Homo sapiens: one gene and its partners. The protein of the gene in region 5 purifies or fractionates together with the protein of the main gene of each other region. This does not show direct contact. Each region holds a gene or a part of one and is shown on either strand. Other genes may lie near its edges.

What was found.
Region 1: the proteins of CTDP1 (region 5) and DIAPH1 purify together in Homo sapiens (affinity purification with mass spectrometry; one large-scale study listed by BioGRID and IntAct). This does not show direct contact.
Region 2: the proteins of CTDP1 (region 5) and NCAPD3 purify together in Homo sapiens (affinity purification with mass spectrometry; one large-scale study listed by BioGRID and IntAct). This does not show direct contact.
Region 3: the proteins of CTDP1 (region 5) and TTC27 purify together in Homo sapiens (affinity purification with mass spectrometry; one large-scale study listed by BioGRID and IntAct). This does not show direct contact.
Region 4: the proteins of CTDP1 (region 5) and BTAF1 purify together in Homo sapiens (affinity purification with mass spectrometry; one large-scale study listed by BioGRID and IntAct). This does not show direct contact.
Region 6: the proteins of CTDP1 (region 5) and DIAPH2 purify together in Homo sapiens (affinity purification with mass spectrometry; one large-scale study listed by BioGRID and IntAct). This does not show direct contact.
Region 7: the proteins of CTDP1 (region 5) and UACA purify together in Homo sapiens (affinity purification with mass spectrometry; one large-scale study listed by BioGRID and IntAct). This does not show direct contact.

Annotation. Positions count from the first base shown.
Region 1 is NC_000005.10:141,525,001-141,528,500, reverse strand, and holds part of DIAPH1 (protein diaphanous homolog 1), read left to right. Parts: coding exon 1-48; intron 49-803; coding exon 804-928; intron 929-2,039; coding exon 2,040-2,204; intron 2,205-2,327; coding exon 2,328-2,463; intron 2,464-3,500. UniProt on the Homo sapiens protein: Actin nucleation and elongation factor required for the assembly of F-actin structures, such as actin cables and stress fibers. Binds to the barbed end of the actin filament and slows down actin polymerization and depolymerization.
Region 2 is NC_000011.10:134,221,168-134,225,331, forward strand, and holds the start of NCAPD3 (condensin-2 complex subunit D3), read right to left. Parts: upstream 2,801-4,164; 5' UTR 2,760-2,800; coding exon 2,696-2,759; intron 1-2,695. Other genes in the region: VPS26B (vacuolar protein sorting-associated protein 26B), read left to right, coding at 3,956-4,164.
Region 3 is NC_000002.12:32,816,550-32,820,049, forward strand, and holds part of TTC27 (tetratricopeptide repeat protein 27), read left to right. Parts: intron 1-907; coding exon 908-1,008; intron 1,009-3,500.
Region 4 is NC_000010.11:92,028,270-92,031,769, reverse strand, and holds the end of BTAF1 (TATA-binding protein-associated factor 172), read right to left. Parts: intron 2,981-3,500; coding exon 2,837-2,980; 3' UTR 333-2,836; downstream 1-332. UniProt on the Homo sapiens protein: Regulates transcription in association with TATA binding protein (TBP). Removes TBP from the TATA box in an ATP-dependent manner.
Region 5 is NC_000018.10:79,749,303-79,752,802, forward strand, and holds part of CTDP1 (RNA polymerase II subunit A C-terminal domain phosphatase), read left to right. Parts: intron 1-3,500. UniProt on the Homo sapiens protein: Processively dephosphorylates 'Ser-2' and 'Ser-5' of the heptad repeats YSPTSPS in the C-terminal domain of the largest RNA polymerase II subunit. This promotes the activity of RNA polymerase II.
Region 6 is NC_000023.11:96,691,342-96,694,841, reverse strand, and holds part of DIAPH2 (protein diaphanous homolog 2), read right to left. Parts: intron 1-3,500. UniProt on the Homo sapiens protein: Could be involved in oogenesis. Involved in the regulation of endosome dynamics.
Region 7 is NC_000015.10:70,666,059-70,669,558, forward strand, and holds part of UACA (uveal autoantigen with coiled-coil domains and ankyrin repeats), read right to left. Parts: intron 3,405-3,500; coding exon 666-3,404; intron 1-665. UniProt on the Homo sapiens protein: Regulates APAF1 expression and plays an important role in the regulation of stress-induced apoptosis. Promotes apoptosis by regulating three pathways, apoptosome up-regulation, LGALS3/galectin-3 down-regulation and NF-kappa-B inactivation.

The DNA of each region.
Region 1 (3,500 bases), on a different chromosome or scaffold from region 5:
TCCTCAAGTTTCCAGACGAGCTTGCCCATGTGGAGAAAGCCAGCCGAGGTGGGGCAGTTTGGAATGAAGCTAGAGCCCAAAAGTCTCTGCATGGGGAGGGAAATAAGACACAGTCTAGATGTGAGAGCATTTTCAGTTCAGACTATTTCAAGTGGAAATGAGATAGGATTTAGGCATGGTGCCTAAGTCACAAGGGCAGAGCGTATGGCTGAGGAGAGATCTTTATGTGTAGAAATAGGAAGCACTCTTTCTCTTCCTAAGGAAACACCAAACACCAAAAAACAGCTAGAAAGGCAGGTGTTTTTAGTCTAGGTTAATAGTTCTTTTCATTAAGAAAACATAGACTACATTAACAAAAATTAGGCCTCACTGTCCTGGAACTAGACAAAGAAAAAGCAGCATTCACTGGAAATTGGAACAGATTTCTGCCCCCGCCTCTATATTTCTATGTATATCTCCTTCCTCCCAAACCCTGTTCTCTAAAATAAATGAGACCAAGATCTCAGGGGATTTCATAGATTCATGTTAAATTAAATGAAGTCTCTCTTCTGTTCCTAGTACTGCATACCTTGTGAAGGCTGGAGGTTCAATGATCAAATAATTTATAGTTTCACTGGAAAGATGAAAACTTAAGTATGTGACACAACTAAAGTACATAAGGAACTAAAATTATTAAGTACCAGAATGTGTGTATAGACTGAAGCTATGCTCTGAAAGGTGAAACTAAGGGGTGTTGAGGCTGGGATTATTAGTAAGCTCTTGCTGTCTGTTTTTATGGTTTTTTTTTTTTTTTTTTTTTTTAGTTTCTGCTGAAAACTTGCAAAAGAACCTAGATCAGATGAAGAAACAAATTTCTGATGTGGAACGTGATGTTCAGAATTTCCCAGCTGCCACAGATGAAAAAGACAAGTTTGTTGAAAAAATGACCATATCCTCTCTTGAAAGGAGGGAGTTGTTCCCTAGGAAGGGAAAGAAAACTTCCTGTAGTGGGGGAAAAACAGGATAGATAGGGCAGTATGCAATTTTTTTCTCTTAAAAAACTCTTTTTCTTTAAATACATAGTTTTTTGGGTTTGTTAGTATTTTGAGACAGGCTCTCTCTGTGTCACCCAGGCTGGAGTGCAGTGGTGCCATCACGCCTCACTGCAGCCTTGACCTCTTGGACTCAAACGATCCTTACCCCCTCAGCCTCCTTGGTAGCTGGGACTACAGGCATGTGCCACCAGGCCCTGCTAAACTTTTTGTAACCTTTTTTTCTTTAGAGATGGGGTCTCACTTTGTTGCCCAGGCTGCATAGTTCCTGAGAGCATTCCATTGTTGTGGAGTAGAAGCACACCATGCAGATCAACCATAAAAGTCCCACCAACTCCCCTGCCTGTACCCCGTCTCCACTACACACGCTCACACATGCTTCCCTCTCTTTCCCCTCCCCAGAGGTAACCACTGCCACTGGACTTTATTCTGATTTGCACCTCATACATTTATTTTAAACAAAAACTGCATTGTATTGTGTTTTGCACATATGTCTTGGCCATGTTTCCATAATAGTATTTATAGAAAACCTCCTTTTAGGTCAAGAGATGGAGACCATCCTGGTCAGCATGGTGAAACCCCATCTCTACTAAAAATACAAAAAAATCAGCTGGGCGTGATGGTGCGCGCCTGTAGTTCCAGCTACTTGGGAGGCTGAGGCAGGAGAATTGCTTGAACCCAGGAGGTGGAGGTTGCAATGAGCCAAGATCGCGCCACTGCACTCCTGCCCGGCGATAGAACAAAACCCTGTCTCAAACAAACAAACACAAACAAACAAACAAACAACAGTTTAAACTGCCACCTTCTTTTTTTATAGGTGTACCATAGTTCATGGTTTACTATTCCCCTATTTAGGGGTACCTACATGGCTTTGGTTTTTGCTGTTATAAACAGTGCTGTATTGAACATCCCTTTGCATGCCAGTACTCATCTTTGAGTAATTCCTTGGGCTAGAGAAGTGGGTCTGCTTCTTGGTCTTGGTCTTGGTCCTTTACTCCTTGGCTGCACAGCTTTGTGAAGGATGCACAGGAACAGTATAACAAGCTGCGGATGATGCATTCTAACATGGAGACCCTCTATAAGGAGCTGGGCGAGTACTTCCTCTTTGACCCCAAGAAGTTGTCTGTTGAAGAATTTTTCATGGATCTTCACAATTTTCGGAATATGTTTTTGGTGAGCAAGGGATACTTGCTGACTGAATCTTTTGTGGGCATTTCTCACTTTCCCCTGGGTTCCTGTTGGCTGGTAGTAGGTATACAATGCCCATGTGTTCCTTCCTCCTCTTCCCTGCCCCAGCAAGCAGTCAAGGAGAACCAGAAGCGGCGGGAGACAGAAGAAAAGATGAGGCGAGCAAAACTAGCCAAGGAGAAGGCAGAGAAGGAGCGGCTAGAGAAGCAGCAGAAGAGAGAGCAACTCATAGACATGAATGCAGGTGAGGAGTGAAGACGGGTTGATGGGCTGAGATAGGAATGTTGGGAAGACTTCTCTGCCTAGAGTCTAGAGGCAGAGTCTCATGTCTGAGCTCACCTCCTGGCAAATGATTTTTGGCAGTCTTCACTCCGAGATCCTGATGCCGGACTTTAACCCCAATTCTGATACATGCGCATTCCAACTTGCCCTGGTTAAACTATTACCTTTTCTCTCCTTTGCTCGCTCTTGCATTCTCTCTCATTCCCCTGTGATTGTGGTATTGCTGTGATATATACTGTTTTCCTTCTGTCCATCCAAAGGTTCCTCTGGCCTGTTCTCATTCCCTCCACTAAATCTTTCGGGTTTTTTTCTGTAAAATATTTTCCTGACGCTCCTCCCATCTTTTAATTGTGGCGTGTCTTCCCTTTCTGCTTATTTCACAAAGTACTATGTCCCTAGTACCTTAGCACAGTTGTATGCACAATTAGATTTTAAATGGATTGAACTTTTGGAGCGGGTGGGGAGCCGGTCACCCTCTTCTTTCTTCAGCAGAATCTCTGTTTCACTACCAGAAGCATGTCTTTGTTGAAACATATGGTTTCAATTACTGGCCCTCTGTTTCCTGTCTCTGCTTCTTTCTTGCTGCAGATTCCCTACCCCTTCGCCCCCACTGCTCTCTCTGTGGGCAGCGGAAATACAGCATACACTGCTCACACAGCACTGAGCCCATGCCACCCTCCTCTAAACCTGAGGGGCCACAAACCTTCTGCAAATGAAGAGGTGTTCACAGAGCTGCTGAGTTTGTTAGGAATCAGTATTTTACAGAGCACAGGCACAAGGGCTGCTCTGATACCTCTTGCTACCAGGGACTTTTTATACTTTTCTGTAAAGCAATTTCCTTGCCCTTAGTTGTAAGCCACAACTTCGTAATGCTATTAAAGCCCACACCAAGTATCCTTCACCTTCCCCTGGGACTCCAGGGTTTGTCCCCAGGTACTGGCTAGGATGCAGTGGGGGAAGGTGGAGTCCCGCTGACATGTGGGATGAGGGCTGCACACG
Region 2 (4,164 bases), on a different chromosome or scaffold from region 5:
TAAAAAACATATATAATTTCTCCAGGAAGTTTAAAATAGAAGAGGCAACCCAGATTCAGACTCCCAGGAATACTTGGTGACTTTAAAACACACTGATTGAAAGAATGTACATTGAGAGGAGGGGTATTAAGACAGCACGCTGGCTGGATTCCACCAATCTCTCTTAACTCTAAATCTTCCCATTCTTTTCTTTTTCTTTTTTTTTTGGATAAACTTTTTTTTTTAACTTAAAGTTTTTGGGTACATGTGCACAACATGCAGGTTTGTTACATAGGTATACACGTACCATGGTGGTTTGCTGTACCCATCAACCCGTCATCTACATTAGGTATTTCTCCTAATGGTATCCCTCCCCTATCCCTCCATCCCCCCTTCCCATTCTTTTCTAATACACTATATTTCTTCAGTGTTGTCATTGTCACTTTCCCAAACTAAAATTAGGACTAGATGGAAATGTGGACATCTCAAATTATTAATCAGGTGTTCCTTCAAATTAATATTAAAAGTATTTGTTCACCACTGATTTAGAGAAGTTGGGCAAGGTATAAATAAGGAAAAAACAGAGATGGGAGCATTACACTGCACTCGGCAAATGAAAATGAAAGGCCTTACACTCAACTAGTTCCATCCTTAGAATACAATCTGGTCATCATCTTTTGTCACTTGAACTTGACCCTGAAGGAGGGGGTCTCTGTACCCTAAGTGGCTATGCACAGCATTCCTTCCAAAGACATGGAATATGCTGCCTGAAAGAAGATCTGAAAAATACAATTGTTTCTTTCCAAATTTCCAGTAATGTTTTAAAGGTCATTATAGACCACAGCAAAAGTTATCTCACTCCTTCTTTTGGTTTTGCTTATGACAGTTCCCTACTGTAAATACCATCAAATCTAATTTGGATGGCAGTAACTGGCCCTGTTATCTACCATTTGGTCACAGAAGTCTTCAGTGTTGATTGTTGAGTGAGAGTATAGGAGACACTGAGTTAGTCTTTTTCCCTCAGTATCTTTACACTATTCAAATCTCTCACTACCTATTTTCTCAGCTGTCGAATGCAGGTAACTTCTGCTCTGCTACTTCACTTAGGATGGAAGAAGAGGAAGAAATACATCACCTATTCACTCAACAAACACTTTGAGAAAATACTAGGGAAGCCACTTATACTTCTAGGGATATAAAGATGAATACTAGAGGGTTCTTGTCCACAAAGATCTCAACATTTCACACTTAGGATACCAAAAAAAGCAGCCTATGATAGAAGAGAGGCCACTGAATTTTGAGTCAGAACGAGGCAAATATCCTGACTTGATCACTTACACATAATTAGTCTCTCCTTCATCATTGGAAATACAGGATTTTTGTGAAACATAATGTGTATAAAGGCCCTAACAATGTGCTAGCCACATAAAAAACAGTCAATAGATGGTATTTATTATTTTTGCTATGGATGAGTGTTAAAATAATAGATATGTAAAATGTAAAATGCTACAGAGCTTAATAGGGAATAGTACTGGGGGAGGAGGGAGAGGAATAAGATGATTCTTCAATTGGACCTGAATGTAAGAGTTTTGCCAGGCAAATAAATGCAGAAAAGTGCCTCCCAGCAAGCACAGTGTAACAAAGCACACAAAGGGAAAGAAATTAAAGTGTTTCTAAATGAACAAAATTGTTACAGTGTTTGCTTGTGGGTATTAGTATCTGTTCAGCAGTTATTATGTGGCAAGTACAAATTTATCTTTACAAAAACCCCTGTGAGGTAGATATTGTACTCCCCATTTGACAGATCAGAAAACAGGGGTTTAGCAAGGATAAACAACCTGCACGGTAATACATGGATGCTATGGGGTAGAGCCAAGGGAACAATCCAAGTGTGTCCGACTCCAAAGGTTATGCTCTTGGAAAATCAAACTGGAGAGAATGGCAGCTCTTATAAAGCATGCCAAGGATGTGGTCATTTATTTAGGAAACAAAGGGGAAACATTAAAGGTGTACAGGCTTGACACATTCAAAGCTGTGTTTTCAAAAGTCGTTCTGCAAAAGTGTGGGGGATGGGCTGGCACAGTTAACATCAGAAAGCAGCTAAAATACTCCTGCAATTGCTCGAGGCTATGATGAAGGCAGCAGCATCAGGAATGGAGCGGGGCTGCCCTGAGACACCTCAGAGGCAGGACAGTGGTAGTGGGCATGAAAGGGGAAGCAGAAATGCCATGACTCCTGGGTTGGTGGCTTGGATGGTGCCATTAGCAGGCTTTGGGAATCCCATTTTCACTCATGTGACGTTTGATGATGTCTGCATGTGAGACATCCAGTGGAACCTATGAACATGAAGTTCAAGAAATAAGTCTGGCGGAAGAAAGAGATTTGCAATTTAAAACCATCTTAATAGGTAAGAATAGATAGGTGCACGAAGACACGCACAGGAAGAAGGGGAAGGCCGAGAAAACAGATGCACAGGCGCTAGAAGAGACTGGCCAACATTCGCTTATTCTAAGGGTGGCCTGGCCGGCTTGAGCCCCCACGGGAAACCTGGCTAGCCGCAATCCTGGCGTGGCACGGCCCTGGGGACCCCAGGCACCGCCGACAGCCGGGCGCCCCCACCCCGCCCCCACCGGCACCCCGGCCCGGGCTTAGGCATCGTCGGGGACGCATAGGACCCTCGCCCTGGCCCCCGGGCCTCCCGGCTGCATCTGCTCACCGAGTCTAAGATCCAGCGGACACCAGGGCTGCAGGCCGCTACCAAGGCCCCGCAACGCCACCATGATCCCAGGGCACCGGCTCGCCGCCGCCGTGCTCAACTTTCAAAGCTCGCTCCCGCGCGCGCGCCGAGTCGTTCCTGTGGACCAATCACAACGTACAGAATTTCCCACTGGCCAACCACCGCGCCGAGCCGTTTCCATTCGCTCAACCAATCACCGGCGTCGTCCGCCGCACGCTCAGAGAACTGGGCGGGCCGAAAAGTGGAAGCCAAACAAGGCTCCTGCGGGTGTTCCGCTAATTCGTTCGAGAAGGAGCCAGGGCCTGAGTTAAACCCTAACAGCGTTTTTCCCGCCTCGTTTTTCTTCAATGGGGGAAAATCTAAAGGGTATCTGAGATAGGGTACTTCCGGTAGTAACTGTCACCTTTGCCCTCGTCAGGCGACATTTCGCGTGCGTGTCAAAGGGCTGCCTTTCCCGTCAGCACTCGAACAGCGTAATATCCGAATGTGAAAGGCAGCCCAACGTGTATCGAGCTAAAGTAATAAGGGAAAAGTAGCCGAAAGCACTCCGAGAAGACAAGACAACTGCAGTTCTGTAGGGACTGCGCGGCACGCGTGGGCCCAGAGCCTGTCCCAGCGAGGTAGCAGCTGCCATGCCGACCGCTGGAGCGCCGGCCGCGCTCTCCCTGCGCATGCGCAGCGAGCTCTCCTCCGGGCTGCCGGGAGTCCCAGGAGCGTTAGGGGGTGCGCCTGCGCGCCGCTGCTCCAGCGCATCCGGGCTGGAGCTCGCCCGCCCCCTCCCCCGCCCGGAGCCGCCGAAGCGCCTCGGTGCGTTGCACCGCCGGAGGCTGGGCAGCTCGCAGCGCTGCTCGGCGCTGGACCCCACCCGGCAGGCGCAGGCCACCCACACCCGGCTCTGTGCGGCTGCCCCCCGCAGCATTGCACGGCCGACCCTCGCCCGCCCACTGCCACCGGCCGCGGGACTGGCTGGGACTGGCTCGGCCGAGGGCACTGCTCCTCGGTGCATTGCTGCTCGGGCGCCGCAGCCCGCAGCCGCCAGCCTCCCCCGGCCGTGCCCCTCCCCCGTGGAGCCGGCTGTCCGTCGGCGCCCACTGCCCGGCGGCAGCGGCGGAGCCAGGCAGCCCCGCGGCGGCCGAGCGCGCTCGCGCATCGGGCCCTCTGGCCTTCTTTACCTAGGGCAGCCCGCGCCCCGGTGCGAGGGAGCGGTCCTTACCGAGACCCGCCCGGCCCGGCGGTGCGATGAGCTTCTTCGGCTTCGGGCAGAGCGTGGAGGTGGAAATCCTTCTGAACGATGCAGAGAGTAGGAAGCGGGCCGAGCACAAGACGGAGGACGGGAAGAAGGAGAAATATTTCCTCTTCTACGACGGGGAGACGGTCTCCGGGAAGGTGAGCCTTGCCCTCAAGAACCCCAACAAGCGGCTGGAGCACCAGGGCATCAAGATCGAGTT
Region 3 (3,500 bases), on a different chromosome or scaffold from region 5:
CTTCTACCAGGAAGAACGATGCCTTCTTCGTAGTTTCAGGTTTTGGGAAAATGAGTTCCCCAGAATGCTGGGAGCAGAGTTGTGATTCACTCTTGCCCATTCCCTGCTGATGCCAAGCCTTGCTCAGGAACTTAAGAACCTGGTTGTGGTCGCGTTCTCTACATGAAGACACATGGGTTGCTGTCAGTGCTTCCTGAATGGTGCTTCAAACCCTGATTATGAAAATGCAGTAAGAATTGAGCTGTACAGATCTGGCATGTCACTTCCTTGGGCTTGTGTCATCAGCAGTTGTGAAGTCCCCATTGGGGACTTGGTAGCATGGAAAGCCACACAAAGATGTGCTGCATCTGTTTTTGTCTGTGTGGGTACTTTGTTTTCAATAATATTTTGTCTCCTTGCCTAATTTTATTTGTCTATGCACATGTGTGCGTGTGTGTGCTCGAATGCATGCGTGTATATGTGTTTAGGGTCTCTTCCCAGTGATCCGTAACTCACCAAAAATCACCTGTTTTTCCCAAAATTCCCTGGAGCAGTAAATTACCATTCTTAAAGAAGGATAGAGAAAGGCCAGGTGCAATGGCTGACACCTGTAATCTCAGTGCTTTGGGAGGCTGCAGCAGGAGACTAGCTTGAGGCCAGTAGTTCAAGGCTGTATGCCACACCTCCAGACTGAGCGACAGGGTGAGACCCTGTATCTTAAAAAAAAAAAAGAAGAAGAAGAAGAAGAAGGATAAAGGGAAAAGCTATGTACATAATTATTATTCTTTTTCAACAATAAAAACTTTCCAGGTAGAAGTGTTTCTAAAGTATGTTACTATAAAAATTCTAATTAAATAATTGGCTTTTGTACCTGTGAATTATTATTAACACTTTTTAATGGATGTTTCTCTCCATACTTATCTTCCAGTGGCCATAAAATGCAGTAAAAACAAATCCAGTTCCCAAGAAGCTGTACAAATGCTTTCTTCTGTTCGACTCAATTTACGGGGCTTGTTATCTAAAGCAAAGGTGAGAGTGACATGTGAATTAATTGGAATTGTCATATAGAAAAAGGTCATTAGTATCAGCTTATTGCTGTTAAATCTTCTTTTACATCAGTGATAATTTTAGGCGCATGTTTTATTTAATATAGCAGCCCCCTCATGGTTGGTTGTGTTGTGAGGATACTATTGGCCTAATGGATAGACCACTCTAAATGTGTATGACTTAAGAGTCTTTGAAATTGTCTGGGTGCAGTGGCTCATGCCTGTAATCCCAGCACTTTGGGAGGCCAAGGCAGGCAGATCATTTGAGGTTGGGAGTTTGAGACCAGCCTGGCCAACATGGTGAAACCCCATCTCTACTAAAAAATACAGAAATTAGCTGGGCATGGTTGCGGGTGTCTGTAATCCCAGCCACTCAGGAGGCTGAGGCAGGAGAATCTCTTGAACCCGGGAGGCAGAGGTTGCAGTGAGCCGAAATTGCACCACTGCACTTCAGCCTGGGTGACAGAGTGAGATACCATGTCCCAAAAAAAAAAAAAGTCTTTGAAACTAATGTTTACAATTCAGCCCTTAATGCTTTCCTTAAATTAAAATAAAACAATGCTCTTGTATTTATTGTCATTTTCCCCCAAAGTGTGGCATATATGCTACTGGTAAACTTCTGGTTTAAATATATATTCATTTCAGTACATATTAGAAAAAAAGCAGACTAGCTCATCAAGCCTATAATTTCATGAATATTATTGCTTATTTTGTATTTAAAGTTGCAATGTAATGTTTCCTTTTAGAAAGACTCTTAAGTAAAAAAATTGACTTAGATAAAAATATTAAGTAGGTCGTATATGGATGTGAGCAAAATTGTTAAGGTAGATGGCTATTGAGGTTTGACAACTGAAATACGCCATTAGTTCACAAAAACTAACTTGTGTACCAGTGCTGGGCCAGAGATGCCTAAGAATCACTCAGGGAGCTTTATTGAAGACTGGATTGATTCTTGGGCTCTATCTGTGACCGATGTAGATTCAGGTCTGGGATGGACCCAGGAAATCTGTTGAATTTCCTATGTGATTTTACTCTGCAGCCAGGTTTGGATTATACCTCTGGAAGCAAAATTTGGACAAATATAACTTCTAGCACAATTTAGCACTTACTTTTCTAGCCTTTACTTGCTTTCACTATTGCATCTTGGGTTGCAAAGTAATTTTGACTTACTTCCGAGAGTAAGTCTCTGGCACAGGGAGGCCATTTCTGAATACCTTTTTACTCTGTAACCGCCTTTCTGAGTATTTTTTTGTTCTTATTAATGGTTTGATCTTTTCAGATCAAGGCATCATTTTTGCCTCTTTAAATAATTAACTTACTTCACTTTTCCTATTTATCTGCATGACCCAGGAGAACTATATTTCCTCCTAGCTTGGCAGCACAACTTCAAAATTGTGTCTCTCGGAAATCTATAAGAGCCCCCTCAAAGTCAGAGCAGCAGGGTTTTTTCCTGTGACTTTCCTTCCCAAAGTGGGAGCTTTGTTTCCTACTTTTGATCAGTGATCTAATCAAAGTAGTTTACTTCTACTACTACCACAGTAGTTTACTTCTTCAGGGTATACTGTGGCTTCCTTTTGTCTGTGCAAAGCTTTTTCTTACAAATTACTACTTTATGTAATCTATACTTGCATGACTTGAATAGTATTGTCTGTGCAGGTACTGCACACCTTCCCATATTATGGTAGATTCCCACATAATGAAAATGCGGCCCCAGAACATCATCTGTGTTTAGATTTTCATTCTCATTAGATGCCAACTGGATTATCCAAAAATGGGAAAAATTACCTCCCAGTGCCTCCTCTGAAGCATATTTCACATATATTTGGGAGTCTCTGGTTTCGTAGATCTTATGCCTTTTCTATTTAATGAATTAGGTTTGTCAAACTGAATTGCATTCCAAAAAAGTCACTTTTTTAGAATACTTTAAAAAGTGAAAATGAAGATTGAAAATGAATGAGGATAACTATGTTAAATTGCTTGCAGCCTATGTTAAATAGGCTTAATTGAATGAATCTCAGGTCTTTTCTTGCCAGGCCAGGGACTTCATGGAAATAAGCTCCTAGTACCTAGAGACTCACCTAACAAATCATCCAGTCCATGCTCTCCCAGGACAGAGTGACTCCCCTGCCCATTTGCACCCTGTCCTTGTACAGGTTTGCTGCCAAGAGTGGCATGAAGGGGCTGTTCATGAGAGTGCTGGAGAGCCTGGACACAGAACAGATTTGACCCCTTACAGTCTTTGGGACTCTCAGCAAATTATTCACTTTTTTCTAAGCCTCAGTTTCTCCGTGCTTCCTCCTTACCCCACAGGGAAGTGATGCCGATTGATTATGATTTGCAAGCACTGTAATTCTTAGTTTAAAAACGCACACACAAAAACCAAAAAAACTATGTGAGGCTAGGTTATTTTCCTAAAAGGTGTTTTCTCTGCTGATGACATTGGAGCAGTTCCTACTTCATTTTGTTATGAAATGC
Region 4 (3,500 bases), on a different chromosome or scaffold from region 5:
AGTAGCTGGGACAAGAAAAGCATGCCACTGTGCCTGGCTAATTTTTGTATTTTTTTTGTAGAGACAGGATCTCCCTATGTTGCCCAGGTTGGTCTTGAACTCCTGGGCTCAAGTGCTCCTCCTGCCTTGGCCTCTCATAGGCATAAGCCACCGTGCCCAGCCCAATTTCACTTTAGACTCCACTGGTGCCAGCATGGGAGGTCTGCAGGACATAGAAGATTCTATTAGGATTAAATATTTAGAACAGATGTGTGATGGAGTGCTTGTTACTTTTGTATAATTTCTATTATGTTCGAATTCCACTTTTGTCTATAAGTGATCACATTCTCAAATAGCTTCAGTGGAATATTTACTTTTGAATAAGTAAGTTCATATAAACCATCCAGAAGGAATAAGGCTATACCAGTTCAATCAGTCCCAACATCAAAGACTTTTACCCTTTCACTAGAATACTTTTTGGAGAAATGTTTGTAGAATAAATAAGCATATACAATAAGCATATATATGAGTGAATATATGAAACAAAAATTATACCCAGGCCCCCAAATGTTAAGATTTTCCTACAAGAAACCCAAATGATAAGACTAATAATCTCTGAATCTATATTTTTAACAGTTTGCTATTTCCTATCATAAAGACACAAAAACCAAGGGAAGTAGTACAATGGATATCTATGAACCCAATTCCCAGTTTAAAATAGTTAACATTCTATCATGCTTGTTTGACTTCCCACACCCATACATTGAAAAAACTACCAAATCATCACATCCATGAAATTGACAGCAGTTCTTTAATATCATTCATTACTCAGTTCAATTCTCCACATCTCTTCATTATTCTTAAGATGTACTACAATGACTGGGTCATTTAATTAAGAATACTTAGTTCTTACCTGTTTACATGTTTTCCTTTCTATGGAAAAGTTGGAATGTGTGATTTACTATTTTACAACTCAAAAGATTATTTTAAAAATGTTATAGCCACTCTAAGTTTTCCTGTCAGCTCTGACTCCTGTTTCCCATTCAGAAGCAACCACACATCATTTTTCTAGTCATCCTTCTAGAAATACACACCTTTTGATTAAACTCTCAGAAAGTTTAAACAGCCTAAATATCTGACTTCTAGCTCTATCTGACATTTCAGATTGGGAAAAAGTACTAACTTTTATGGTGTGATTTCTTTTGCCCCTTCATAGCCCTTTAATGATATATTGCTCTGTACTTATTCTAAGAAAATATCAATTACTATAAGCTATGTTAAAGAGCTGGTTTATGGAACTAGCAAATAAATAGTTAATAAAAAAATATTCAACTCAAATATACTGAAATGTTCTACATAAAGTTTTGAGTTAAAATCCTAAACAATGAAAAAAAACCTGTATACCTGAATAATCTTTTGCTCTTTCTAGTGACCATTTCCTACAAATAACACACAGTTGCATATATTTTACAGTTTCAATCTTATATTTATTCTCTTGTGGAATGCTAGGTTTAATGTTACAGTATGGTTGTCAAAGCTAATGAAATGTGACAAATGTCTAAATGCTGCAGAACAGTATAATTTTAATTAAACAAAACACCTGTTATTGTACAGCTGAGGTCTGATGGTTGTTAAACTGATGCCTATGTGTATGGCCAGCCACAAACCTTGGGGATGTTTATTACCTGTACATATATATACAAATATATCCCATACATATGTATGCACACAGGCATGTATTAATTTATGCGTGAAACTTATAAAATTATATATACAAACACATACATGCACATCTATCTACATATACCTACCCTCACCATTGAGTAATCAGCCTCATGCCCAATTATTATTGCTGCCCAGTATAACTACATGATTTTAGTGCCAATACCAGGCACCTTTTTGGGTGCAGGATAGGTACATCTATGCATATAGATATGCATATTCATGTATGTTTGTGTATATAAAGAAATTCTCTCTCCCTTTTATGCTTCAGCCATGCATTACTACAATAAACAGTCTTTCCACTGTAGGTGTTGGAATTCTAAACAGTGTAAAATCTATTTCTGGAAAACTGTGTATGTTCATAGTTACAAAAAATATATTATATATATGATTGAAACCTATTGAGTACATATGTTATTTGAATCTGGCTATATCGTAGCCATTAGATAAATTAAAAAAAACCACCCTCTAAATAGGATGTTATGGTAGCCTTAAATATACCATTACCTGTATTTAGAATAGTTGATATTATATCTTAAAAGTTGAAAAAATGATGTTAAAGATTTGAAAAACACTATGCATCTGCATTAAATATATAAATGTTTCCACCAAGGGCCCGATTAAATTCATTGTCTGACATTTTCATGTTCTAAGACTGACCAATATCATAGTCATTATTCTTATATTCTTAAAATTATGGCTCATTAAGGCTTTTATAGAAAAAAAGCCCTATTTTAAATCAATTATAAAAACAAGTTCTATTTAAAAGAAAAAACATATACAAACACTAAAGTACTCATGGATATCATCCTGTACAAAGTGACTAAAGATAGGAGGCCTGTTCCCATTAAGAACACCTCCTGGTAGCACAAATAAACCTGGTTTGGTTCCTCTGCTCTGCAGCTTTTCAGCATGTAAAATTTAAACCATTTCACATTAACATTTAAATTTAATACAGTGCAAATATTTGAGAATAACTTGTTTCCCCCAGTGAAACAAGAGCCAGCATTATGCTGAATATTCTCCAGATCTATTTACACATTGAGTTAAAAGTTCACCATAAACTTAGAAATTTGCTGAATATCAGCAGAAATGTAACTGAACTAGCAGCAATTGCATTTACAATATTTGATAGTTACTTGAGAGAATGCATAAAATTTTCCAGGCTGTACTCTGAATCATACTGCTCTTGATCCCAAAGATCACTCAGGTTTTCAAGAATTGATTTCATACTTGCTTTCCCAGAAGTAGAGGTGTCAGCTTTTTCTGCTTTGCCATCCTTAAGAAAAATTGGCAAAAAAAAAAAAAATAAAATGAGAGGTTAACTTCACAAATTGTATTTTCCTTTAAAATCACACTTGTTTCTAATACAATTATTCAACAGAATTGAGTACTTCAAGTGATGGGGAAATTCATGATCTCCAAATACATTTATTTGTCAGTTTTTTATTTGGAAAGAACTTCAAAATTATGGAAGAATTATAAGAACATAACAAAGAACTTATTTGCTTTATCATTCTCTCTCCCCATTTATATATGTGTATGTATATATGGATGTCAGAAATATAGTTAGATATCAGTTTTTTCTCTGAACAATTTGAAAGAAAGTTGTAGACATCATGTCCTTTTATCCTTTGAGAGGAATCAGCATGTATTCCTAAGAACAAGAATATTCTCTTACATAACCATATAAAGATCAGATTAAGGAAATCTAACACTGATATTAAAATGTTCTAATATACAGTCTGTTTTCAAATTCTGCCAATTGTCTAAATAGTGCCTTTTATGGCAATAGGCCA
Region 5 (3,500 bases):
CTTCACTTTCGGTCGGGGCCCCTGCCCCTGCCCCTGCTCTGCTCAGTGCCCCTGATACGTCCAACCCAGCGTCGCTGTGAGGGAGTCAACCACACCTGCCAGCACCCCCGAGTCTGGCCCCACTAGGAGGGGCCAGGGCTCCCTTGAGCAAGGCATCAGCACACAGGCAGGGAGCCGGGCACCAGACTGTGAGGGTCGCGCCCCGTGCACACGAGATCCAGGCCCGCCCCCTCCTGGACTTGGTGACCGTCCCGAGCTCGACCTGAGAGGGCACTTCGGCTCTCCTGTTCACAGTCATGACTGCCCCCTCCCCGAGGTCAGCGCCATGCACTGCTCTGGGGGCCTGAAACACCGCCTCTGTTCGCAAGGGTCTCCTGTCCCGTCCACCTGCCAGTGGGTTGAGCTCTTCCAGGGGTTCGGGACACCCCTCACGGCAGCACCTTCACGTTTACGAGAACTGTCTCTGTCTTGTTTTGTTTCAAGTTCTCAAAACGGAGTGAGGTGGAGGAAGCCTAATGGGAGGATGGGAGCCGGGTTTTCCCGGAACAGCCGTCAGCGTGTATGCGGAGGAAAAGAGATGACTGATGAATTTGTTAATTGCCAAAAGCTTGTTGCTGTAGCAACCGGAGGCCAGACTCGTGGCCCTGACAGCGTCGTTAGTGTCAGCAGAGACTGGAAATAAAGGAAACTCGTGTATGATACGCCTGGCGTCCTCAAAGCAAACAGCAGGCGGTGCCCAGCCCAACACAGGCACGGGCACAAGATCTGCAGATGAGGCATGGAGGGGAAGCGGGCGGTGCCCAGCCCAACACAGGCACGGGCACAAGATCTGCAGACGAGGTGTGCAGAGGGGAAGCAGGTGCACAGAAAAGGTGCGCGGAGATTTTTTTTTTTTAAGACAGGGTCTTGCTCTGTCGCCCAGGCTGGAGTGCAGTGTTGCGGTCATGGCCCAGGCTCACTGCAGCCTCCATTTCCTGGGCTCAGAGGATCCTTTTTCCTCAGCCTCCCAAATAGCTGGGACTCCAGGCATGCACCGACACTCCCAGCTAATTTGCAACCCCTCACTCTCATGTAGCAATTAAAAGTAAGCCTTTATTTCTCAGTAGAAAATATTCATTCCAGTTGACATAAAAATAAATTCGTTTAAAACTTGGACGGCAGGTATTAGGGCGTGCACTTCCCGCTACTCTGCCTTTTTTTTTCCCCCCCGAGACAGAGTCTCGCTCTGTCACCCAGGCTGGAGTGCAGTGGCGTGATCTCAGCTCACTGCAACTTCCGCCTCCCGGGTTCAAACAATTCTCGTGCCCCGGCTTCCCGAGTAGCTGGGACTACAGGTGCCCACCACCACACCTGGCTAATTTTTTGCTTTTTTTTTTTTTTTTTTTTTTTAATGTGGAGATGGGGTTTCACCATGTTGGTCAGGCTGGTCTTGAACTCCTGACCTCAGGTGATCCGCCTGACTTGGCCTCCCAAAGTGCTGGTATTACAGGTGTGAGCCGCCACGCCCTGCCTACTCCGCTTTTAAATGATGGGATGCATTGCTTTTTAAGAAAGGATCTCATGGATCCAGGGGTCCCAGTATGTGATGAAAGATGGCAGTTCCCATCTTACAGAGCGGGCTGGACTCAGAGGCAGGCCGGGGAGGGAGGGGCTGGGTACAGAGGGCAGGCTTGGGAGGGAGGGGCTGGGCACAGAGGACAGGCTGGGGAAGGAGGCACTGGGCGCCGAGGGCAGGTCAGGGAGGGAGGGAGGCTGGGCACACAGAGGGCAGGTCAGGGAGGGAGGGAGGCTGGGCACACAGAGGGCAGGCCAGGGAGGGAGGGGCTGGACTCAGAGGCAGGCCGGGGAGGGAGGGGCTGGGTACAGAGGGCAGGCTTGGGAGGGAGGGGCTGGGCACAGAAGACAGGCTAGGGAGGGAGGGGCTGGGCGCAGAGGACAGGCCGGGGAGGGAGGGAGGCTGGGCACACAGGGCAGGCCAGGGAAGGAGGGGCTGGGCACACAGAGGGCAGGCCAGGGAGGGAGGGGCTGGGCACAGAGGCAGGTCCAGGAGGGAAGGAGGGAGCGGGGGAGGGGCTGTCATCCTACGGCCCAGTGCCTGCCACCTGGACAGGACTTGGAGTTCTGGGGCCCTTGTGTTTCTCTCATGCGGTATTTCCTGGACCACGAACAGTTGGGTTCTCTGAACGAGCTTGTCGTGACTGATCGGCTGTGTGTGCCAGCCCACGGGGTTCTCTTGTCTTCTGTTGGTTCCATCTGATCAGCTGATTTTATTCCTTTTGTCTCTTATAAATGAACTGTGATTCTTCTAATACCAGCAAGAATGGTTTCAAGTTATTTCTGCGCTATAGTTTGTGTATATTAGCCTCGAGTGCATGTGTGTTACATGCGTGCTGTGTGTGCGTGCAGGTGTATCACATTACCGTGCTATAGTTTGTGTGTGAGCCTCGAGTGCATGTGTGTTATATGCCTGCTGTGTGTGTGTGTGGCTGTATCACACATAATGTGTCACATAGGTGTGTATGTTAGCTACATTGTATCTACGTTAGCTAAGAAAATATTCTTAGGGTACTCACATATGGTGACTGTCCCTAGTTTCTCTCAGTGACTTTTCGGGATTGTAACTGAAGGCTAGTATGGCTCAGTTGCCCCTAATCAGGGTAAAATCAAAACAGGCTGTGCACATTTAACCAGGCTTCCACCTCTAAGGTTGTAGCTGAGGTTCCTTGGCGCAGTGGGACGTCCCAGCACGGCACCAGGAGGGAGGGTGTCTGGCAGGACATCAGGTGGTTGGAATTTCAGGGCTCTGGGGATCTCCTGGGTGTGCCCCGATCAAGTCGGCTCACGTCACAGAAACCAGGTGCACCTGCAGCGGCTCCTAAGGAAAACCTAGTGGCACTGGCTGGTTATGCAGAGGCTCGTAAGGAAAGCCTAGTGGCACCGGCTGGTTATGCAGAGGCTCCTAAGGAAAGCCTAGTGGCACCGGCTGGTTATGCAGAGGCTCCTAAGGAAAGCCTAGTGGCACCGGCTGGTTATGCAGAGGCTCCTAAGGAAAGCCTAGTGGCACCCGCTGGTTATGCAGAGGCTCGTAAGGAAAGCCTAGTGGCACCGGCTGGTTATGCAGAGGCTCGTAAGGAAAGCCTAGTGGCACCCGCTGGTTATGCAGAGGCTCCTAAGGAAAGCCTAGTGGCACCGGCTGGTTATGCAGAGGCTCGTAAGGAAAGCCTAGTGGCACCGGCTGGTTATGCAGAGGCTCCTAAGGAAAGCCTAGTGGCACCGGCTGGTTATGCAGAGGCTCGTAAGGAAAGCCTAGTGGCACCGGCTGGTTATGCAGAGGCTCGTAAGGAAAGCCTAGTGGCACCGGCTGGTTATGCAGAGGCTCGTAAGGAAAGCCTAGTGGCACCGGCTGGTTATGCAGAGGCTCCTAAGGAAAGCCTAGTGGCACCCGCTGGTTATGCAGAGGCTCCTAAGGAAAGCCTAGTGGCACCGGCTGGTTATGCAGA
Region 6 (3,500 bases), on a different chromosome or scaffold from region 5:
TCACAAATATTTTATGTACACACTGACTCTTCTGAAAAACGTTGATTTTGTAATGTGAGGTACTAGATTGCAGAGCATATTATCAGAGGAAATGCTTCTGCCAAATTTGTTTTAACCCATCTTAACTTTCTATATGTTCTGCCCTGTATCGTGAGCAATGAAAGTGGAAATAAGCATGGTACAAACTTCAAAAAACAATGCAGCCAGGCGCGGTAGCTCATGCCTGTAATCCCAGCACTTTGGGAGGCCCAGGAGGGCGGATCACTTGAGGTCAGGAGTTTGAGACTAGCCTGGGAAACATTGGGAAACCCCATCTCTACTAAAAATACAAAAATTAGCTGGGCGTGGTGGTGCATGCTTGTAATCCCAGGTACTCGGGAGGCTGAGGCAGAAGAATCGCTTGAACCCGGGAGGCGGAGGTTGCAGTAAGCAGAGATCAGGCCACTGCACTCCAGCCTGGGTGACAGAGTGAGACTCCATCTAAAAAAAAAAAAAATGCAGCCTAGATAATGCGTAACCATATAAAACTCTGTGAAACAATTATGTCAAGAAAATTGCTGAAAGGAGTGCAGAAAGGGAGGAGCCTTAAGCTAATTGATCTACAATTAGCTATAACAGAACTCAACCCTTAAGTTGGGGAAGATAATGAACATACTGAACTATAACCTAGGCCCTCAAGGGCACAGCCATCTACATTTGAAGATTTCAATAATTCAAAAGCAAAAGTAATCAGGTGTAGGATATTACATAAATATACATCTTACATTCTTTTCTCAGAACCAATGACAAATAAGAAATCCCTACTCAAAATGAAGTTTCACTCTTGTTGCCCATGCTAGAGTACAATGGTGCAATCTTGGCTCACTGCAACCTCTGCCTTCTGGGTTCAAGCAATTCTTCTGCCTCAGCCTCCCGAGTAGCTGGGATTACAGGCGTCTCCCATCATGCACAGCTAATTTTTGTATTTTTAGTAGAGATGGGGTTTCACCATGTTGGCCAGGCTGGTCTCAAACTTCTGACCTCAGGTGATCCACCCGCCTCAGCCTCCCAAAGTCCTGGGACTACAGGCGTGAGCCACCATGCCCGGAATCCTTGCTGAATTTCTTATCAGGTATGAGACTAAAATCCATCTGGCTTTAAATGTATTAGCTAGCCCATATGGTGCCTCTGTGTGAATCAGAAAACGCAGCCCCAGGAAGACATAGTCTTGTAACTGGCACATGATTTGGTAAGTGGTGTGACCTCTGTGGTCTCACACCCTTGGTCAGGGCCCACCCATACATACCGACCTGGTCTCTGTTATACGTATACATTATTAAAGCTCACAATGCAAGTGTACAGCCTATACAAGGTCTTCCTATCTACATATAGAATCTTTGTAAACAGTTTCAGCCAGCACAATAGACTACTAAGCATTTAAGACTTTATCAGTGATTGATTTCAGAGCACATAAAACACCACCTCCATAGTTTTCCCTCCCGGGCCAAACAAAAGAAGAAAATGCCAGCTCTCTGGCTCCAACAATTATCACTCATCTATCTGTTTTGAGGAAAACTACCCAACTGACTGGGTTAGTAAATGGTCAGTCTAGAAGTTGCAGAGTGGAGACAGATTACTAGCCTAAATCTACTTGAGTCTACAGCTAGTGAAATTATTTGCCTATTGCCTCTCAGCACAATAACAGCACTAAACTGCTGTCTGGAAAGTAATAGTTACACAATTTCTTTAGCAAATCTGTGTGGAGTCTAGGCCATTTGCCCAAGTTGATTTCTCATATTTACCTACTCCACCCATCCCCAGCTCCATCACCTCATTAGTGTAGTCTGATTTTCAATTGTAAGCCCACAAACATCTCAATAAGAATAACTTCTATGTAAAGGTTTACTCACCCAATTATCCAGATTCAGCAACCTAGACTATATCAAAGGGGCTGAAAAACAAAGATAGACCAAACCGGCATTTGTTTTGAAATAAAACTAGAGCCAGTAACATAAACTTAGTTGTTGTGGTGGGGTGTGAATGTCAAAGAGTCATATGAACGCTTTATCTAGAGAAATGAAGAATAATTTTCCTTTGCCTAACTATCTACAGCATTTCCCTGAAAGGAAAATTCTTACACATAAGCCCCACCCCACTTCACAAATTGCAAAATGAAGAATTAGTGATTGCCCAACCAGTGAGTAAAGCCAAAACTAATTTGTTCTATTTTTGATGGTACATAACAGCTGTTCCAAGGAGTCTATCCACCCTTGTATAGTCAACCTTTCCAGATACTTCTACAGAATTAAAGACAGAAGTGAACTTAATTTGGGCTGAGGCTTTATGATAGCACTTTATGTGGAGTAACTCTGAATAAGATTTTACCAGTAATTTAAAGCTGTATTTGTTTAAGGAGTTCAGTGACATGTATATCAATTAGGTACACCTTAGATCAAAAATCTAATTTTTTTAGGCAATTGGTAATATTTGATTATGGAATGAATGCTGGATGATACCAAGGAATATGTTAATTTTAATTTTTAAAGACGTGACAGTATGTAGGAGTAAAATGACAAGATATCTGAGATTTGCACTAAAATACTTTAGCAAGGGAAAAATAAAGGATGGATCAAGCAAATGTTGCAAAATGTAGATAACTTATATCTGGGCAATGGATAGATGGTGGTGGTTCATTGTACTATTCTACTTTTTAGCACGTTTGAAAATTTGTTTAAGTTTTGTAAAAAAGTCTCATTAACTGGCTCATATTATGAAGTTTAAAAGTTTATTTCTTTTACTTTTAGCTTAATAACAGACCAACGAATTAAGGGTAGGTTAAAATTCCTCTTAATTTTGAGCAGATCTTTCTTTTTAAAGCCTGGATGTCTATGATATCACAGAACAACAAATAGATTTTTTAAAAAGGATTGTACCCAAAATCTCTTCTCCCTTGGGTGAGTGCCAGAACTGCCAGGTGATTGAGTCAACAGCCATTTCGGAATAATTCCTTCCTAATAAAGTGTTGGATTCCTACCTAGGCCTGCCTTAATAGCTACCTAGAAGCTTCTCACTCATTCATAGGCCACACTGTATACAGCTGGTGGCCAATATGCTGGTATGTATTTGTAGCAATGTAGCTTACTCTCCTTAAAGCAATACAGTAAAATCTTCAGTAAACCAAAGACTGTGCAAATGGTGATAAGTAAGAATTTTGTTTTCTACATTCTTTCATGAGAAAGGGACCAATACCTTTCCCTGCCAGGTAACCTCACACAAAGTCAGTTAAATACCAGAATTCAGTTGTCTGTTTAAGCTACAGCCAGAGTATATTATTTGGAAACAGACTCAACCTGATGAGGAAAATAAGTTTTAAATCAGTATGAGTTAATTTCTCTCCATTACTGACATTCACAATAAATAGCTATGTGAAAATATATCTTAATCTTTCTTTAAATGCATCAGTTTTGAGCTGTATCCCACAATGGGTGTCTTCCACAACATGCCCACTTGGATATCAAGCT
Region 7 (3,500 bases), on a different chromosome or scaffold from region 5:
AACTACATAATTCTAACAAGGTAATATAAATGTTTTAAATGGATGGCAAAGCCACAGTAAAACATCCACCTTAGAGGAGGAACTGTTTACTATAGACTAGATTGGACAGTGAGGGCTTTAAGAAGGAGGATAACATGTTAATGAATGTATAGGATTCAACTCAGTAGAAAGGAGGGAAAGGACATTCTGGGTGAGGGGATGTAGACTTTCTAGTCTGTAGAAAGACATGAGCAACAGAACATAAAATGAATTGGAGGGCTCAGTTTACTACTATGGGTGAGTACCGAGATCAACTCTAGATGCTCCCCAGTGTTCTTGGTTTCTTGCAGCCCAGAAAGAGAGCTTCCCCACCACCCTCTTCCCCATCTTTCATATGCCACAAACCCACTGGCTTTTGACTCTTCATGTATGAGACAAGTGAGCCTTAAGTCTCCCCATCGTTCCTGAATTCTTGGCTAGAACAGCTAAAGAAACAGAAGGAAAAATGCTTTTGACTTTTGTGTTACTTCACTTTTTTTTTCAATTCGGAATTTTTGCACGCAAGTTGCTAAACTGGAAAGGGTCACTTTGTTAATACCTGTGTCTACTTTCCTGTGAGATTCTGTGGTAAAGAGCACTGCTCTGGGGTTTCCAACACATAGCCGTGCAGACTACTTTGTACCTACCTTATTATCTTTTGCTTCTATTTGTTTAGCAGATTCTTGTATTCTTCTTTGTAACTCTGTGATTGTTGTTAAGGACTTATCACATCGTTCCTTCTGATCCTTAATTTCTTGCTCAATGCTGAAATGCAGTAATTCCTTCTCATCTTTTGCAGATATTTCCTTCTTTTTGGCATGCAAAACTTCCTCACATACTTCCTCATACTTTCTATTCAGATTGGCCAATTTTTCATTTAAGCTAGAAATCTGTGTCTCCAAATCACTTTTTGTTGCTTTATATTTAGACAAGTCAACTACCTCTCTAGTCTCTAATTTTTTTAATGCTTGTTTAGTATTCTGAACCTCCGACTGAAGTTTGGAGACTTCTTCCATTTTGTTTTGGCTTTCTTCTTCCTTTTCTCTCAAGCTGGCTTTTATGATTCCAACTTCTTTCTCAAATGCTTCTTTAATCTGCAAATGCTCTGCCAGGGGTACAGAAGAGTTCTTTTGATTCTCCAACAATTGATGCAGTTTGGTCACTGTCTGCTGCTCTTTCTCGTAACACCTTTGCATACTCTTCAGTTCTTCCTTTAGATTTTCAATTGTGCCATTAAGAGATTTTTTCAGAGCCTCAACCTGTTCCAATGGAACATGTTGTTTTTGCAAAAGATTTTGCACTGCAAGTATCTCAGAAGTCTGTTTGGCATTTTCTTCTACTAGCTTCTCTTTCACATTCTTTACTTCCGTGTATTTCTGTGACAAGTCTTTTAACTGTTTGTTTAGCTCGTCTGTTTTTCTGCTTAATGCTCTTTCCATTTCATGAGACTTCTCAATGAGAACTGTCTTATCTCTCAAATCTTTCTGAAGGGTAAAAATCTCCTTCTTTAACTTGTCATTCTCTTGCTTGTTTTTCTTGACTTCTTCTTCACTGACACTATACTTTTGTGTCTGCTCTGATAACTGGTCTTTTAGTTCTTTCTCTGTTGCTTTAAATTTTCTCTCGCACTCCTCAAAGCTGACAATTGGGGCGTATTTTACCTTAATGCATTCTTGTATTGTGTCGAGCTCCTTCTTCTGGGCTTTAATTTCGGCATGCAGTGTCACAATCTCTTCTTGGCCTTTTCTGTAGTTGGCCAAGATTTCAGCATTACTATCCTGCACCTTTCTCATGCTCTGACTTAGCGAGCTCATCTTTGCCTCGTGCTCTGCCAGGCTGATGTACTCAGCTTTTATTTGGTTCTGAGTGTTTTCCAGGTTTCTTTTTAATATTTCATTCTTATCTTTTATTTTTACAAATTCCTGATTTATATCTTCAAATTTTTTCTTCACATCTAATAATTCTCTGTTAGTTTTGGCTAACGTGTCATTCAGTGTCATTTTAACCTCTTCATGGGTTTTAACTGGCACATACTGATTACTCATCATCTTCTTCAAGTTAGTGTTTTCAGATGTGAGAGCGTGTATTTTCTCCTGGTCTTCACCACATTTTTTCTTAAGTTCAGACAGCTGTTTCTTAAGTTCAACAATATTGGATTTCAGAGCTATTATCTCTTTTTCATGTTTCTCAGGAGGTACAAACACAGTTTCTAGGCGGCTTACATCCTTACTTAAGCTGTCATTTTCCAGTAGCAATTTCTCCATTTCCAACTTCTTTTCTGTATATTTTTGTGTTACATCTAAAAGCTTTCTATTAAGATCATCAATAATTGCATCATGTGACTTTTTCATGTCTTCACTTACTTTTAAAGGAACATAATGATTTTTCATTTCAATTGTTAAGTTATGTGCTTGCTCCTTGAGGAGCTTATTATCCAAATAAACTTTTTCAATTTCCTTTTGTAGTGTCTGATTTTTCAATGTTAACTCAGTGATCTTCTTCCCAAGTTCTCCTGATTTCTGTTCTAATCTGCTCTTAACCTGTTCATGTTCCTCTGGTTTGACGTGCTGAGCAAGCTTGGCCTTAACATTCTCAAGTTCTCTCTTTAACTGTCTAATTTCACTAAGTGATTTTTCATGTTCTCTTTCCATTTCTACTAATTTTTTTGCTTTCTCATTCACTTCATTTGATAATGAGCTCTTCATGTTTTCAAATTTTTCAGCTGGAATGGAAAGGGCCAACTTCGCTGACAATTCTTTTGCCTGGCCTTCCATCTCTGTGACCTTTCTTCCTTTCTTCTCTCGCTCCATTTCACACATACTAAGTTCCTTCTGTAATCGCTTATTTTCTTCTATCAGCTTGCCTTCATCCCTCTTAAACTCTTCTACTATCATCTCATTTTGTTTGATTTGGTTTCTTAATTTCCCCACTTCTGCTGAAGCACCTTCATATTTTACTTTCAAGTCTTTCAACTGATCCTTCAGTTCCTCGGTTAGTCTGTGATTCCCTGAGGCTGCTTCACTTGTTAAGTGTTCTTTAAGGGCAAGAAAATGGGTCTGCATTTGTTTAACTTTACCTTCTGACTCATACATCCTCTTCTGCACATCTTTTAATGCATCTTCTAATTGCTTTATCTGTTCATCTGAATCCTCCTTGACCCTTTCACATTCTAATGCTAAAGCTTTGCATTCTGCCACTTTGTGTGCCAGTTCATTTTGGAGCTTCAGTCGGTCTTGTTTTGCTGACTCACAGAAAGTTCGCATTGCTTCTAACTCTTTCTTTAAAATTTCATTTTCAGAGTATGACGTTTGACTGGGTAAAGATAGTTCCAGAGGTCTTAACATAGATCTGCTTTGCATATGGGCTGGTATACCTGGGGAAGTACACTGAAAAGAAAAAAAAAAAGACATCAATCACAAAAGCCTAAATGAGACATTTACTATACTTATTTGCCAAACTTAGAGAAAGTTAGCACATCATCA